Regions from separate parts of the Homo sapiens genome. Here region 2 is linked to region 1. A link means that fine-mapping ties the variant in region 1 to the expression of a gene that starts in the linked region. Tissue or cell type: macrophages after interferon gamma. Region 1 holds a variant in brackets; the other region holds the start of a gene. All regions are shown on one strand. Distances are between the middles of the regions.

What was found. PIP is the estimated chance that this variant, and not a neighbour inherited with it, causes the effect.
Region 2: PKD2L1 starts here. The variant in region 1 is fine-mapped to the expression of PKD2L1 in macrophages after interferon gamma (Alasoo 2018, PIP 0.95).

What each region holds. Positions count from the first base shown.
Region 1 is chr10:100,952,442-100,960,361 of GRCh38, forward strand. SLF2 (SMC5/6 complex localization factor 2) reads left to right here. Exons shown (of 20, transcript NM_018121.4): 18 at 4,010-4,096; 19 at 6,987-7,055. Among named protein-coding and RNA genes, the nearest start is that of SEMA4G, 13 kb to the right of the region's middle. The variant T/C (reference allele first, on the strand shown) is at 3,647.
Region 2 is chr10:100,327,922-100,334,303 of GRCh38, forward strand. It overlaps PKD2L1 (polycystin 2 like 1, transient receptor potential cation channel), which reads right to left and starts at 2,307. Exons shown (of 16, transcript NM_016112.3): 1 at 1,948-2,307; 2 at 1,290-1,403. The coding sequence starts at 2,182.

The DNA.
Region 1 (7,920 bases):
GAGGCTGAAGCAGGAGAACTGCCTGAACCCAGGAGGTGGAGGTTGCAGTGAGCTGAGATCACACCACTATACTCCAGCCTGGGCAACAGAGGGAGACTCCACCTCAAAAAAAAAAAAAAGAAAAAAATACATAGTATCTCCTAGACATGATAGAAAAGACACAAGACTAATTCTTATGTTTTTATAAATGCTGTTGTATATAAAACTGTGTTTGCGGTTGGGCACAGTGGCTCACACATGTAATCCCAGCACTTTGGGAGGCTGAGGCGGGTGGATCACCTGAGATCAGGAGTTCGAGACCAGCCTGACCAACATGGTGAAACCCTGTCTCTACTAAAAATACAAAAATTAGCCGGGCGTGATGGTGGGCACCTGTAATCCCAGCTACTGGGGAGCCTGAGGCAGGAGAATTGCTTGAACCCAGGAGGCGAAGGTTGCAGTGAGCTGAGATCACGCCATTGCACACCAGCCTGGGCAACAGGAGCAAAATTCTGTCTCAAAAACAAAAAGTGTTTGCTCTTCTGATTAGAAGCTAATATAGTCATCTGTAATGTTCTTACATGGTTTTTATATTTTATACATTTTTTTTTTCGAGACGGAGTCTTGCTCTGTCACCCAGGCTAGAGTGCACTAGCACAATCTTGGCTCACTGCAACCTCTGCCTCCCAGGTTCAAGCGATTCTCCTGCCTCAGCCTCCCAAGTAGCTGGGATCACAGGCGCCTGCCACCACATCCACACCCAGCTAATTTTTGTATTTTTAGTAGAGATGGGGTTTCACCATGTTGATCATGTTGCTCTCGAACTCCTGACCTTGTGATCCGCCCACCTCGGCCTCCCAAAGTGCTGGGATTACAGGCCTGATCCACCATGCCGGCTATAAATTACTTTTTATGATTAAAAAAGTCAGTGACTGGGCATGGTGGCTCATGCCTGTAATCCCAGCACTTTGGGAGGCTGAGTCAGGAGGATCACTTGAGCCCAGGAGTTCAAGAGCAGCCTGGGCAATGCCATCTCTGTTTAAAAAAAAAAAAAATTTAGTGATTATTGTAAAACTTATATAAAGTAAAACCTGAAAGACTCCTACAATCCAGTGCCCTCCTGTAAATTTCTTCACAATTTACTAATATATTACATATAATATACTAACAATTATTTTAACAAAAATGTAATCATAGTATCATTTGCAACTTCCTTTTTTTCCTCTTTAAAAAAAAATTTTTTTTTCTTTTTGAGACAGTCTTGCTCTGTCACCCAGGCTGAAGTGCAGTGGCACGATCTCAGCTCACTGCAACCTCCGTCTCTTGGGTTCAAGTGATTCTCCTGCCTCAGCCTCCCGAGTAGCTGGGACTAGAGGCATGTGCCATGATGCTGGCCAATTTTTGTATTTTTGGTAGAGACGGGGTTTCATCATGTTGGCCAGGCTGGTCTCGAACTCCTGACCTCAAGTGATCCACCCGCCTCAGCCTCCCAAAGTGCTGGTATTACAGGCGTGAGCCACTGTGCCCGGCCTCCTCTTTAAGACATTAGCACTTGGCTGGGCGCAGTGGCTCACAACTGTAATACTAGCACTTTGGTAGGCCGAGGCATGCAGATCGCTTGAGCCCAGGAGTTCAAGTCCAGCCTAGGCAACAGAGCAGCATGCCATCTTTACAAAAAAAAAAAAAATTAACCGGGCATGGTGATGCATGCCTGTAGTCCCAACTACTTGGGAGGCTGAGGCAGGAGGAACACCTGAGCCTGAGGAGGTTGAGGCTGCCATGCACTGTGGTCATGCCACTGCCCTCCAGCCTGGGTGACAGAGTGAGACCTTGTCTCAAAAAAATATATAAAAAATCAAATATTTGTACTTCTATCTAATAACTATAGTATTTTGAAACCTTTATTGATAAACAGTATGTTTTTTGTGATTGCACATAGTGTTAATATGAACATGCTTATTCATATATCTTTGCCCACTTCTGCAAGCATAGCTATAAGGTAAATTCCTAGAAGTAGAATTGTTAGATCAAAGTTTATAAATATTTCAAATTTTAATTATTTTAAATCGCTATTATCACATTTTCATCCCAGAAAGTGTTCATTTACGTTCTCACCAAGTATATGTGAGAGAACTGCTTAGGTCTATACATTTCTAAAATTTAAGATGCATAATTTTTCAAAGAATTAAGTATGAACCTCTATTAATGAAAGGTTATCTTGTTCCTATAGAAAAAAAAATAGGCCAGGTGTGGTGGCTCATGCCTGTAATCCAACACTTGGGGAAGCAGAGACAGGAGGATTGCTTGAGCCTAGGAGTTTAAAACCAGCTTAGGCAACATAGCAAGATGCTGTCTCTACAAAAAAACAAAAACTAGCTAAGTGTGGTGGCACGTACCTGTAGTCCCAGCTACCCAGAAGACTGACTGAGATGTGAAGATTACTTGAGCCTATGAGTTCAAAGGTGCAGTGAGCTATGATCCCACCATTGCACTCCAGCCTGGATAACAAGGCAAGACTCTCTTTTTTTTTTTTTTTTGAGATGAAGTCTCACTCTGTCACCCAGGCTGGAGTGCAGTGGCACAGTCTCGGCTCACTGAAAGCTCTGCCTCCCGGGTACACGCCATTCTCCTGCCCCAGCCTCCCGAGTAGCTGGGACTACAGGTACCCGCCACCACGCCCGGCTAATTTTTTTGTATTTTTAGTAGAGACGGGTTTTCACCATGTTAGTGAGGATGGTCTTGATCTCCTGACCTTGTGATCTGCCCGCCTCGGCCTCCCAAAGTGTTGGAATTACAGGTGTGAGCTACCTCGCCCGGCTGACCCTATCTCTTAAAAAAAAAAAAAGTCACAAACTGATTTTGCTATAAGAATTCCCATATATACCAGAAAGAGGGGCATGATAGTGGTCTTGTAATCATGTCATATTGAAAACATTATTTGTCAACAAATGTTAGCTCTGTTTGTTGGAGTGGAATTTAACCATTATACCTTGGCAGCAGTATAATACATTCATAAGATACCAACATCACCAAATATCAAATGGGCCAGTGTTGTGCTAGCGAGTCGCAGTGGCTCATGCTTGTATCTCAACACATTGGGAGTCTGAAGTGGGAGGATCACTTGAAGCCATGCATTTGACACTAGCCTTGGCAACAAAGTGAGACCCTGTCTCCACAAAAAAAATTTAAAAATTAAAAAAATATTGGCTGGGCGCGGTGGCTCACACCTGTAATCCCAGCACTTTGGGAGGCTGAGGCAGGTGGATCACCTGAGGTTAGGAGTTTGAGACTAGCCTGGCCAACGTGGCAAAACCTGTCTCTACTAAAAATATAAAAATTAGCTGGGCATGGTGGTGCACACTTGTAATCCCAGCTACTCAAGAGGCTGAGGCAGAGAATCGCCTGAACCTGGGAGCCAGAGGTTGTAGTGAGCTGAGATCGCACCACTGCACTTCAACCTGGGTGACAGAGCAAGACTCTGTCTCAAAAAAAAAAAAAAAGAACTGGGCACGGTGGTGCATGCCTGTAATCCTAGCTAATCAGGAGGCTGAGACTGGAGGAGCACTTGAGCTGGGGAGTTCAAGGGTGCAGTGAGCTATAATTGTGCCACTGCACTCCAGCCTGGCACCAGAGCCAGACCCCATTTCTTTAAAAAATTTTTTTCTTT[T/C]TTTTTTTTTAAAAGGCTAGCCGTTGTCTGAATATTTTGTTAGCGAGTATGTTAAAGGAAGGACTCTTTAAATTTCTGAGTACTATATTACCCAGTTAGAGCTCTGGGGTTAATTTTCATTAATGCGAGTTAATGCATAGCAAAACAACTTTTGTTACAGTGTGTATTTTTTAAACTAGTAATCTTATTGTCATGGAAGCAGCTTTCACTGATACAACTACTGTTACGTTGAATAGTTAATATCAGTCATTGCTAACAGGAATAATAGATTTTTAAATGATTTAGTTGTTCTAGCTGCATAATTTCTTTGTTAATTTGTAATGCTTCAGAATTGTTTTCATCCCTTGCATTTGTTTTGCACAGAAACACTTTGTGCTACTCTGTGGGGCTTTGGAAAAGCATGTTAAATGTGATATTAGGGAAGATGCAAGACTTTTTTACAGAACTAAGGTAAGTGTGTTCTTTCTTTTTTTCTTTTTTTTTTTCTTAATCTTGGTTACGTTAATATTTAAGGATAGAAGCATACAGGCCTATATTCAGAAAAAGAACATATAAGGCTAGGCATGGTGGCTCATGCCTGTAATCCCAATACTTTGGGAGGCTGAGACAGGAGGATTGCTTGAAGCCAGGAGTTCAAGACCAGCCTGGGCAACATAGCAAGACTCCATCTCTACAAAAATTTTTGAAAAATAGCCAGGCATGGTGTCATGCACCTGTAGTTCTGGCTACTTGGGAGGCTGAGGCAGGAGGATCACTGGAGCCTAGGAGTTTGAGGTTGCAGTGAGCTATGAACACACATGGCACTCCAGCCTGGGAGATAGAGTAGGACTCTGTCTCGAAAACAAAAAGAAACATGTAAGATTAGAAATAGGACTTTCTCTTTTAATAACAGAAATCAGCTCCTGCTAAATTAGTGTAGCTAAATTAAAAGTGAAAGGAAAAAAAATCTCAAAGCAAATACACTTTTCACTTTACTTTCTGTTCTGAAACTCCTGACACCCAAGGAGAAAAATACTTCTAGTACTAATGATACATATTTTTCCCCATTACACAAATTAAAACCTTCATGCTTAAGTTACCATCAAGGATTGAAGCATTATTTAAATAAATACGTAAGTTATGAAACAGTGGCTTTGAAATTTTATGATGGTTGAAAACTTGTTTTATTCATAGAGTACAAATAGATTAGCTGTTATTCTTTGAATGTTTCATTGAAGAATATGTTAAAGGAAGGAGTCTTCAATTTTTTTTTTTTTTTTTTTTTTTTTTTTTTTTTTTTTGAGATGGAGTTTCACTCTTGTTGCCTAGGCTGGAGTGCAGTGGCACAAATTCGACTCACTGCAACCCCCGCCTTCCAGGTTCAAGCGATTCTCCTGCCTCACCCTCCCAAGTAACTGGGATTACAGGCGCCCGCTACCATGCCCGGCAAATTTTTTTTTTTTTTTGTATTTTTAGTAGAGACGGGGTTTCACTGTGTTGTCCAGGCTAGTCTCGAACTCCTGACCTCGTGATCTGCCTGCCTCGGCATCCCAAAGAGCTGGGATTAGAGGTGTGAGCCACCACACCCAGCCAGGAGTCTTCAAATCTTTGGGTCGTACAACACCTAGTCTGAGCTCTAGGGTGGAAATGATTTCAGCACTAAGCTTGCTAAGCTTTTTTTCTTAAAGGTTTTATATACTCAAAGACAGTAGAAAAGCCAAATATATGAGTATGGAGTAGGAAAATAATGTTAGTATTAATAGAATGATTTGACAGTTTTTCCTGAAACATAAAATCAGACACTTTTAAAATACTTTTTTCTAAATACAAAAATGAGCCAGGTGTGGTGGTGCGTGCCTGTAGTCTCAGCTACTCAGGAGGCTGAGGAAGGAGAATCCCTTGAACCCAGGAGGCAGAGCTTGCAGTGAGCTGAGATCTCGACACTGCACTCCAGCCTGGGCGACAGAGCAAGACTCTGTCTCAAAAAATAATAATAATAAATAAAACAAAATAAAATAAACATACTTTTTTCTAAAGATTTTTTTATTCCAAGATTATCTTTTAGCTTTGATAATGTAATACAATGCTGATTCTTTTTGCCTCTTGTCTTTGGATAGTCATTGAATGTGAAGCCTCAGCTTTGTAACTTAATATCTTACATTAATTAGCTGCAAAGGTTAGTCATTTGAACAATGCCCATTCAGATTTAACATATGTATTTATTTTAGTAAATTTAAGTTAAATACAAAAATAAGCAACTAATGAAGTTATCAGATTTCTGATTTTCAAATACATGTAGGGGATAGCTCTTTCCCCAAGAGTAGAACTCTAGTTTCAGAAGCACATTCTTTTGAGCATTCATTGACCAGAATTGCTGGCCTGTAGAACTTGGTAGTGGCTACTACTGACAGCCATGCTAAAAGGGGACCACCCAAGTTTTATGTTTCTTAAAGACAAGGGCTTGGCACAGATTGTTGCCAGTGCTTCTCTTACTTAAAGTGGAAAGCGACACAGTGGTCTGTGGAAATTGCTTCAAGGGATGGTCCTGCTGAAATAGATGAGTTGCCTGCCTCTCCAAAAGCCTCTATTATAGAAAAGTTGGTGATTGTTTTGGAGAAATTTGAACTGTAGATGAAGAAAAAAGCATAGATTGTAGTTTACTTTATAAATTTAAAGCTGCTATAAAATTCCTGACTTGTTGAAAACATGTTTCTCAAGCAGTTATGTTCAATAGCTAATTGAGAATCTCTAGAGTGATAGAGTTTGGGTTTTGTGTTACAGTTTCAGTTGTGCACAGACACTTGCTAAACCTCCAAATGTAGGAAAATACGAGGTATTTAAAGGGGATTCGTAGTACTTGGGCACAAGCATGGAGAGGAGTAACAGTGAATTTTGGATCTTCTAATAATGTGGAGAGGGACAAATAAACGTTTTTTTTATGGCTTTGATCCTTTCAAAGGGAAGCTGGGAAGGGAAGGCACAGAACAGCCAAAGCCTTGGGCCCTGTTGACACAGACCACCCTTCAGCTTCTCTATCTGGTTGTTCAAAAGCCAGCGAGTTAAAGTTAAGTTCCTTTGAAGGCAGAGAATGTGTTTTTGGGGATGATCTTCAATAACAGGAAAATTAAATCATAAGCATTCAATAGTTTAGATTATGATGATAAAGGGAGTCTTATTAATTTCTATGATTTGAAATCTCCTTCAAAAGATGAGTAGTTTATTTTCTCTTTGTTGACAGAAATCAAATTGAGTTGTTGAGTGTGGGCCTGTTGCAGCTGTCAGATATTTTGTGTAGTGTTAAGCTGATTGTAGGTGAGAATGTTTTAATCTGATCCCTTTTCCTGTTTTTGATATTTTTAAGGTGAAAGACTTGGTCGCCAGGATACATGGAAAATGGCAGGAAATAATCCAGAACTGTCGGCCTACTCAGGTGTCATTTTGTTATACAATTTCATGTATTCTTAATAGTTTTGCTGAATGGCACTCTTCATACTGTTTGAAATAAAATAGGGTATAACAGTGCACTTGCTTCTAGTTATCTTAAGATAAACTGAAAACGCCAGTATAATACATGGTTTGTAATTTTTTTAGTTTTCGTTTGCTTTATATTCATTAATTTATTTCCAGAAGTGGTTGAGCCCATTTAAAAATATTGCATTGCATCAAATGGAGGTTATTCAATTAAGAGCATTTTTAAGACAGATCTATTGAGATAGAATTCACATACCATAGATTTTACCCACTTAACGTGTACAGTGGTTTTTATTACATTGACAGAGTGAATAACATCACCATAGTCTAATTTTAGAACATTTTCATCACCCCAAAAAGAAATCCCATACCCATTAGCAGTCATTCATTCCCCTTTCCTCTACTACCTTGGTTCCCCTCCTGACTCCTCCCAAATCCTAGGCAAACACTAATCTACTTTCTGTCCCTATACATTTCCCTATTCTGGACATCGGTAAATGAGATATACTATGTAATCTTTTGTAATTGGCTGTTTTCAGTTAATATAATAATAAGTGAATCCATGTTATAGCATGTACATCCCTTCTATTGCCAAATAATTTTCCACTGTATGGATATGTCACATTTATTTATCTACTTATCAGACATTTGTATTGTTTTCACATTCTGGCTATTACAAATAATATTTCCATGAACATTTGTATGCAAGTTTTTATGTGAATATGTGTTCTCAAATGAAACATTTGAAAAGGAAGTCAAATTGCTGGGCCATATGGTAATTCTATGTTAAGTGTTTTAAGAAACTACCAGACTGTTTTCCAAAG
Region 2 (6,382 bases), 630 kb before region 1:
ACAAATGTGGGTGGCTCAAAAAATAAGACAACATTTCATCAACATTAATGTTATGAGACTCTTTGACTCCACTTTCAAAAGATTTATGCACCCTGACAAGAACAGAGTATTGCGGAGCCTAGAACACCTACTAATGAGGGCATCTTAGTTGTACGATTCAACCTACAGCTTTAATCAAAACACAACCCCACACACAACTATATTAAACTAGGCAAACATCACTTGTGCAACTTTTGAAAGAAGTAATAAACCAAATACAAAGTTGCTGTCATTACCTACAAGTCTAATAGCATCTGTTTGGTCCAATTTTATTATTATTTACGGTTCTTTGACTCTATCTTCCCACAGTCGCCCTCCTATCTTTTCACTTGCTTCTCTCAACTTAGAGATCAAAATTTCTCAGTTTGTGTCTATAGCTAGAGCCTCAATAAGCTTCCTCCAATGGCATGTGACATGGTGGTCTCTCACATGGGACCATCACCATACCATGTGTTTCCCTCCCTCTCTTAACAGGGATCTGAGATCTAAGGTCGCCTGGATCTTTTACTTCCTCTCTTTTTTCTTCCATCTTTTTCTCTGCCTCTAAAGAAACATGCATCGGATATAGTATAATAACTACGTGAAGCCCACCAAACTATCTTTCCAAACAGAAGGGAGTGGTTTTCCACTCTTTTTTTTTTTTGGAGACAGAGAGACAGAGTCTTGCTCTGTCCCCCAGGCTGGAGTGTAGTGGCACGATCTTGGCTCACTGCAACCTCTGCTCCTGGGTTTAAGCGATTCTCCTGCCTCAGCCTCCTGAGTAGCTGGGATTACAGGCACCTGCCACCCAGCTAATTTTTGTATTTTTAGTAGAGACAGGGTTTCGCCATGTTGGCCAAGCTGGTCTCAAAACTCCTGACCTCAGGTGATGTGCCCACTTCGGCCTCCCAAAGTGCTGGGATTACAGGCGTGAGCCACCGTGCCAGCCCACTCTCTACAGAAGGGTAAAATATTTTCACCTTTCACCTTTTCAGCCAATAGAAAACAATGGCTGCCAAAAACTGGTTTCCCCTTGTAATTCTTGACCAAACTGCCTTCCTCTACTGACAAATTCCTTTTAAACAAAATATCTTAAGCTGCAAAGGTAAATAGATGGGATTGGAATATTGTTATCTAAAGTTCCCGGATATAGCCTGCTTACACAGATAGATGCTCGCTCCACAGATGTTGCCCACAGGAATGTTTATACATATAGTGCACACATAGATGTTTCTCACAGACAGATGTACACAAACACAGATGCTACTCACGTAGACAGATGTCCACCAGGAACACAATATATACCAACAGCTCCCTCAGGGTGGTCTTGATATAAAGTTCCCGGTTCTCAGCTGTGTTCTCAGTCAGGGTTGTTCCCCAAAGTCCTAAGGGGCATGGGAGAGATGCCTGGGATGCTCAGTGGCAGTGTTCCTCCCAGTCATCCCCACCCATCTGTCTCTGGACTTTAGCCCCTTTCCACCCCTGCCCTTCCTTGCCCATCACCTTCATCCTTGGCTGAATCTGGCTACTGTACCCACACCCATGCTTGCTCTTCCCATCAGCTCCCTGAGGTCGACAGGGGTGAAGGCCCTGGCTTGTAGAGAATGAAGGCATGGAAAGGAGGCACCTGTTCCAGGTGGGGTAGTCTAGGGCATCATCACATCCATGTCCTCCCTCAAACCAGCTCCCACATACCTCTCTGGATCCCCAGGTGATGACCATGCCAGGCTCCCACAACCGGTAGACCGCTCAGCTGGCCTCTGTGTTCTGGGTCATGCAGCACTACCATGGGCAATTCATACACCCCAAAGTGACACCGAAAGGTCACCTCTTCTTCAGATCACATTCCACCCCCACCCCCTGCCCAAAAGCTTTTGGTGACTCCTCCTGATTCTAATATCCCAGGAGAACTGTCCCCCTATCTGGTACCTCTGATGCCTTGACAGATATGGAGGCAGCAGCTGGACACCTGGGTCCTGTATGCCGTCTCCTGGGGTTCATCTTCAGGCTTCTTGGGTTGGGGCTGGAGAGGCCCCGTGCTGGAGATGGTGCAGACTCTCAGCGTCCCGTGTGGGGAAGGGGGACCACTGTAGGCGGGGTTGTCCCAGGCTCCACTCCCCAGCTTTTGCAGCTCCTGCCCCTCAGGACTTCCCACAGCATTCATGGGGAATGAGGTGGGGGGGCCCGGTACCCCAGGTGCCCACTCTCAGCTAGAGGAAGAGGGAGCAGAGGCACAGCCCAGCCTAGCCAGCAGAGAGCAAATGGAAAGGCGTCTGAGAGCAGCTGTTTCCACACAGCCTGGGCTCCTGCCTTTTGTAGGGGGATGTCTGTGCCTGCTGGGGAGGGAGCGGATGAGAGGACAGGGTGGGGAAGGACCATCAATCCTGTCAGGAGCTCTCTCTCCCTCTTGCTGCAAGCCCCAGGGGACCAGCCGAAAGGGGAGGTGAGGGAACTGGAAGGTGGGGGTTTGAAGAGGGGAGAGGGGAGAATAGGAGGAGGATGTGGAGCTGGGAGTGGAAGGAGAAACGGGAGGAAAAGGCGATGCTGGGGATGAAGGGGGCTGCTCGCAGATGTGCCTGGTGGAGAGATGGCCCAGAGGTCGGACAGAAGAGACGATCAAAGAGCAATGGGAGGAGCTGAGACAGGAGGGGAGCCGGGGGCCTGTGCTGCGGGTCTGAGCTCATTTCCACTAAAAGCTCCTAAAAGGGCCGACATGGATTGGGGTGGGGACCAAGGCTGGGAGGAAAGCTGAAGAGCGCTGTCCCCCTCCCAGGCTCTGCCCACCTCCCAGGTTCAGTCAATGGGTCTGAGGCTCCTGTCCTGTCTCACCTTCAGCTGTCCCCTGGTGGAGCAGAGATGGGCAGCTCCCTTCCCTCACTTCACCCTCTCAGCCGTGGGGAAAGGACAGTGGCAGGAGGAACCCCAGTCTCACATACTTCAGGGCACTGAGGGGGCAGGGGAGAGGACCACAGAGTCCTAGGTTGTCTATATTCCTTGTTCTGAAGCTTGCCTTTCCATGGCTTACAGGTGAGATACACCAAGAGAGGGGGTTCCTTAAGGGTGTGGGGCTCAGTATGGGAAAAAGGCTAAGACCTGGTTGGGAGGCTGGATCGGAGAACAAAGGACAAGGACAGTATGATGTGGGACTAAAGGGGAGTGGATATCTGGACCCAGCTGAGCTGGGAACCTTTTCCCATGGCTCTGCTTAGTCCTGGGCCTAGAATCGTAAACTTGAGCACAAAGTGGAACTATCCATGATATCAGGATTAATCTGCTTTCTTTATAACTGCAGGTCTCTGAATTAAAACTGTGTCATGGGCCCCCAAGCACATCCCTGCCTATGCCCTGCTCCAGCTTCTGATCACCTGCTCCAGCTCCCCTATAGGCATGCATGATGCCCCAGAATGGGGCTGATCCCACAGGTTGTGGTGGTCACCCTGCAGTTTCTCCTCCTTGAGGCTAGAGCAGAGACTTTCCTCTCCTAACTCCTGGCTCCCCACCCAGGGCTACTCACTGGCCTGAAGCCCACCTTCACATTCAGCAAAACATCAGCCTTGTCAAAATAATCAGTCTTGAGTGTCCCTATAAAGAGATCTTGGCTGGGTGTGGTTGCCCACACCTGTAATTCCAGCACTTTGGGAGGCCAGGGCAGGAGGATCACTTGAGCTCAGGAGTTCAAGACCAGCCCGGGCAACATGGTGAAACACCGCCTCTACAAAACAACAACAAAACAACAAAAATTAGCCAGGCATGGGGTGCGTGCATGTAGTCCCAGCTGCTACTCAGGTGGCTGGGGTGGGAGAACCACTTGAGCTGGGGAGGCTGAGGCGTTGAGGCTGCAGTCAGCTGAAATCACACCACTGCACTCCAGCCTGAGCAACAGAGCAAGACCCTGTCTCAAGAAAAAAGAAAGAAAGAAAGATAACAAGTGTTGGCAAGGCTGTGGAGAAAAGGGGCCCCTTGTATGCTTGGCTGTATTGTAAATTAGTACGGACATCTTGGAAAACAGTATGGAGGTTCCTCAAAAAACTAAAAATAGAATTACCATATGTTCCAAGAATCTCAAAGGAATTGAAATCAGTGTGTTGAATAGATGTCTCCTCTCCCATGTTCATTGCAGGATTATTAATAATAGCCAAGATATGGAAACAATCTAAGTATCCATCAACTGACGAAAGGATTTAAAAGATGTGGTATATATGCACAATATAATATATTCAGCCTTGAAAAAAAAAACACAGAAAATTCTGTCATTTACGACAACATAGATAAACCTAGAGAACATTATGTTAAGTGAAATAAGCCAGGCATAATGAGACAGATGCCCTATGCTCTCACTTATATGTGGAAACTAAAAAAATTGAACTCGTAGAAGTAGAGAGTAGAATGGTGGTTACCAGAGGCTGGGGGTGAGGGGTGTGTGAGAGGGGAAGAGAGTGGTCGATGGATAAAAGCTTTCAATCAGGCAAGAGAAATATGTTCTGTTGTTCTGTTGCACAGTGTGGTGACTACAGTTGATAATGAGGTACTGTGTACTTCAAAATAGCTAACAGAGAGGATTTAAAAAGTTCTTACTACAAAGAAATGATAAATATTTGAAGTAATGAATATGCTAATTCACCTGATTTGATCACTCCACAATGTATACATGTATCAAAATGTCACATTGTACCTCATAAGTATATAGAATTATTATTTATCAATTAAAAATAAAATAAAACTTTAAAAAATGGAGCAAATGGGCCAGGCACAGTGGCTAACATCAGCACTTTGGGAGGCCGAGCTTGAGACTAGGAGTTCAAGACCAGCCTGGGCAACAAAGTGAGACCCTGTCTCTACAAAAAAATCAAAAAATTAGCTGGGCATGGTAATGCATGTCTGTGATCCCAAATACACAGGAGGCTGAGGCAGGAGGATTGCTTGAGCCCGGGAGGTCAGGGCTGCAGTGAGCCGTGTTCATGCCATTGCACTCCAGCCTTGGTGACAGAGAAAGAGCTTGTTTCAAAAAAAAAAAAAAAAAAAAGCAGCAGCAGCAAATGGAGGCATGAATAATGTGAGGTAGCCTATTTTAATGGTATAGACACTAAACATTATGAAGTTTAGGGGAAAAGGAAGCTTCCTCTGGAGGAAATGAAACAGAAGCTAGATCTTGATGGATGGGCGAGGTTTGGGAAGGAAGAGCCCCATCAGGTTTGGATGGGAAGGTTTGGAAAAGAAGAGGTTCCTTCTAAGCATAGGAATGATAGGTGGGGTCTTGGGGCTCTGAAGATGTCTGTGATGCCCCTAGGGTTGTAGAAGACTGGCCCTTAGTGCAGTTGGGAGAAAACAGAGGAGGGGGAAGGCCTGAGGTTGCATAACGAGGGTGAGGACCTCTGGTGGTCCCTATTGCCGCCGAGAACTGTGGTGTGCGTGAATCCCTTCAGAGACCATGGAAACTACCAGCTATTCAGAGTGGTTGAAGAACAAAAGGAGGTGGCTTCTGACCAAGTCAGTGGGAAGGAAATGACAAAATAAGAAGAAAAGGAAGGGTTCTTTTTCATTTGGGGCACTCATCCATGCTAATTTTTCATCCATAAAGAAATGAGTAGTCAATCTTTTCATGCTTCCTTTACCAAAAGGTGATTGAATTTATTTTATTAATTCATAGCCTATGTTTAAGGGAAATATATTATTTTGAGATTTTTATTTGTAGTTTAAATGTTTCTTGGGGGGTTGGAGATTTAAGGTAGTCCCAGACTTCTTTTAGATTTTTCCTCCTTATTATAGTTTGTATAAATATTGATCCAACCTAGATATAAGCTATGGGTAGGAGGAATCTTTTTTTTTTTTAACTATAGAACACAGCATTCCAGAAAAACCTCATTTCCATTGGTGAATGGCTATTGGCATACACAAACCTGGCATGTGGTTGAGGAGAAGGGATGCAGCTGACGTGAGAAAATCTTGAGAAGAGAGCCATAATCCCGCTTCCAATTCACTTGAGGTTTTGATGTATGAGGAAAGATGAAAAGAACTGTATGTGGGTAGGCCTGGCTGAAGAGCTAAGGAGTGCAGGTGCATGTGTGTGGGATGGGGTCCTGACAGCCATGTGCAGATGCATGTGTGTGGGATGGGGTCCTGACAGCCATGTGCAGATAGTTGAAGGCATAAGCCCCAAAGAAGGAGAGGGATTGTGAAGGTGCTCTTTAGGGGATTATCTAAGGGTAATGAATGAACCAAAGGGGAAAAAAATGTTTCATCAGAACTTTCATCATGGGTAAGATGTAAGAGGCTATAAAACAACCTCCCATGAGAGGTGGTGAAATTCCCATCCCTTGAGTCATTTGGAGGAGACCTAGAAAGTTTTGGAAGTATACAACACTGC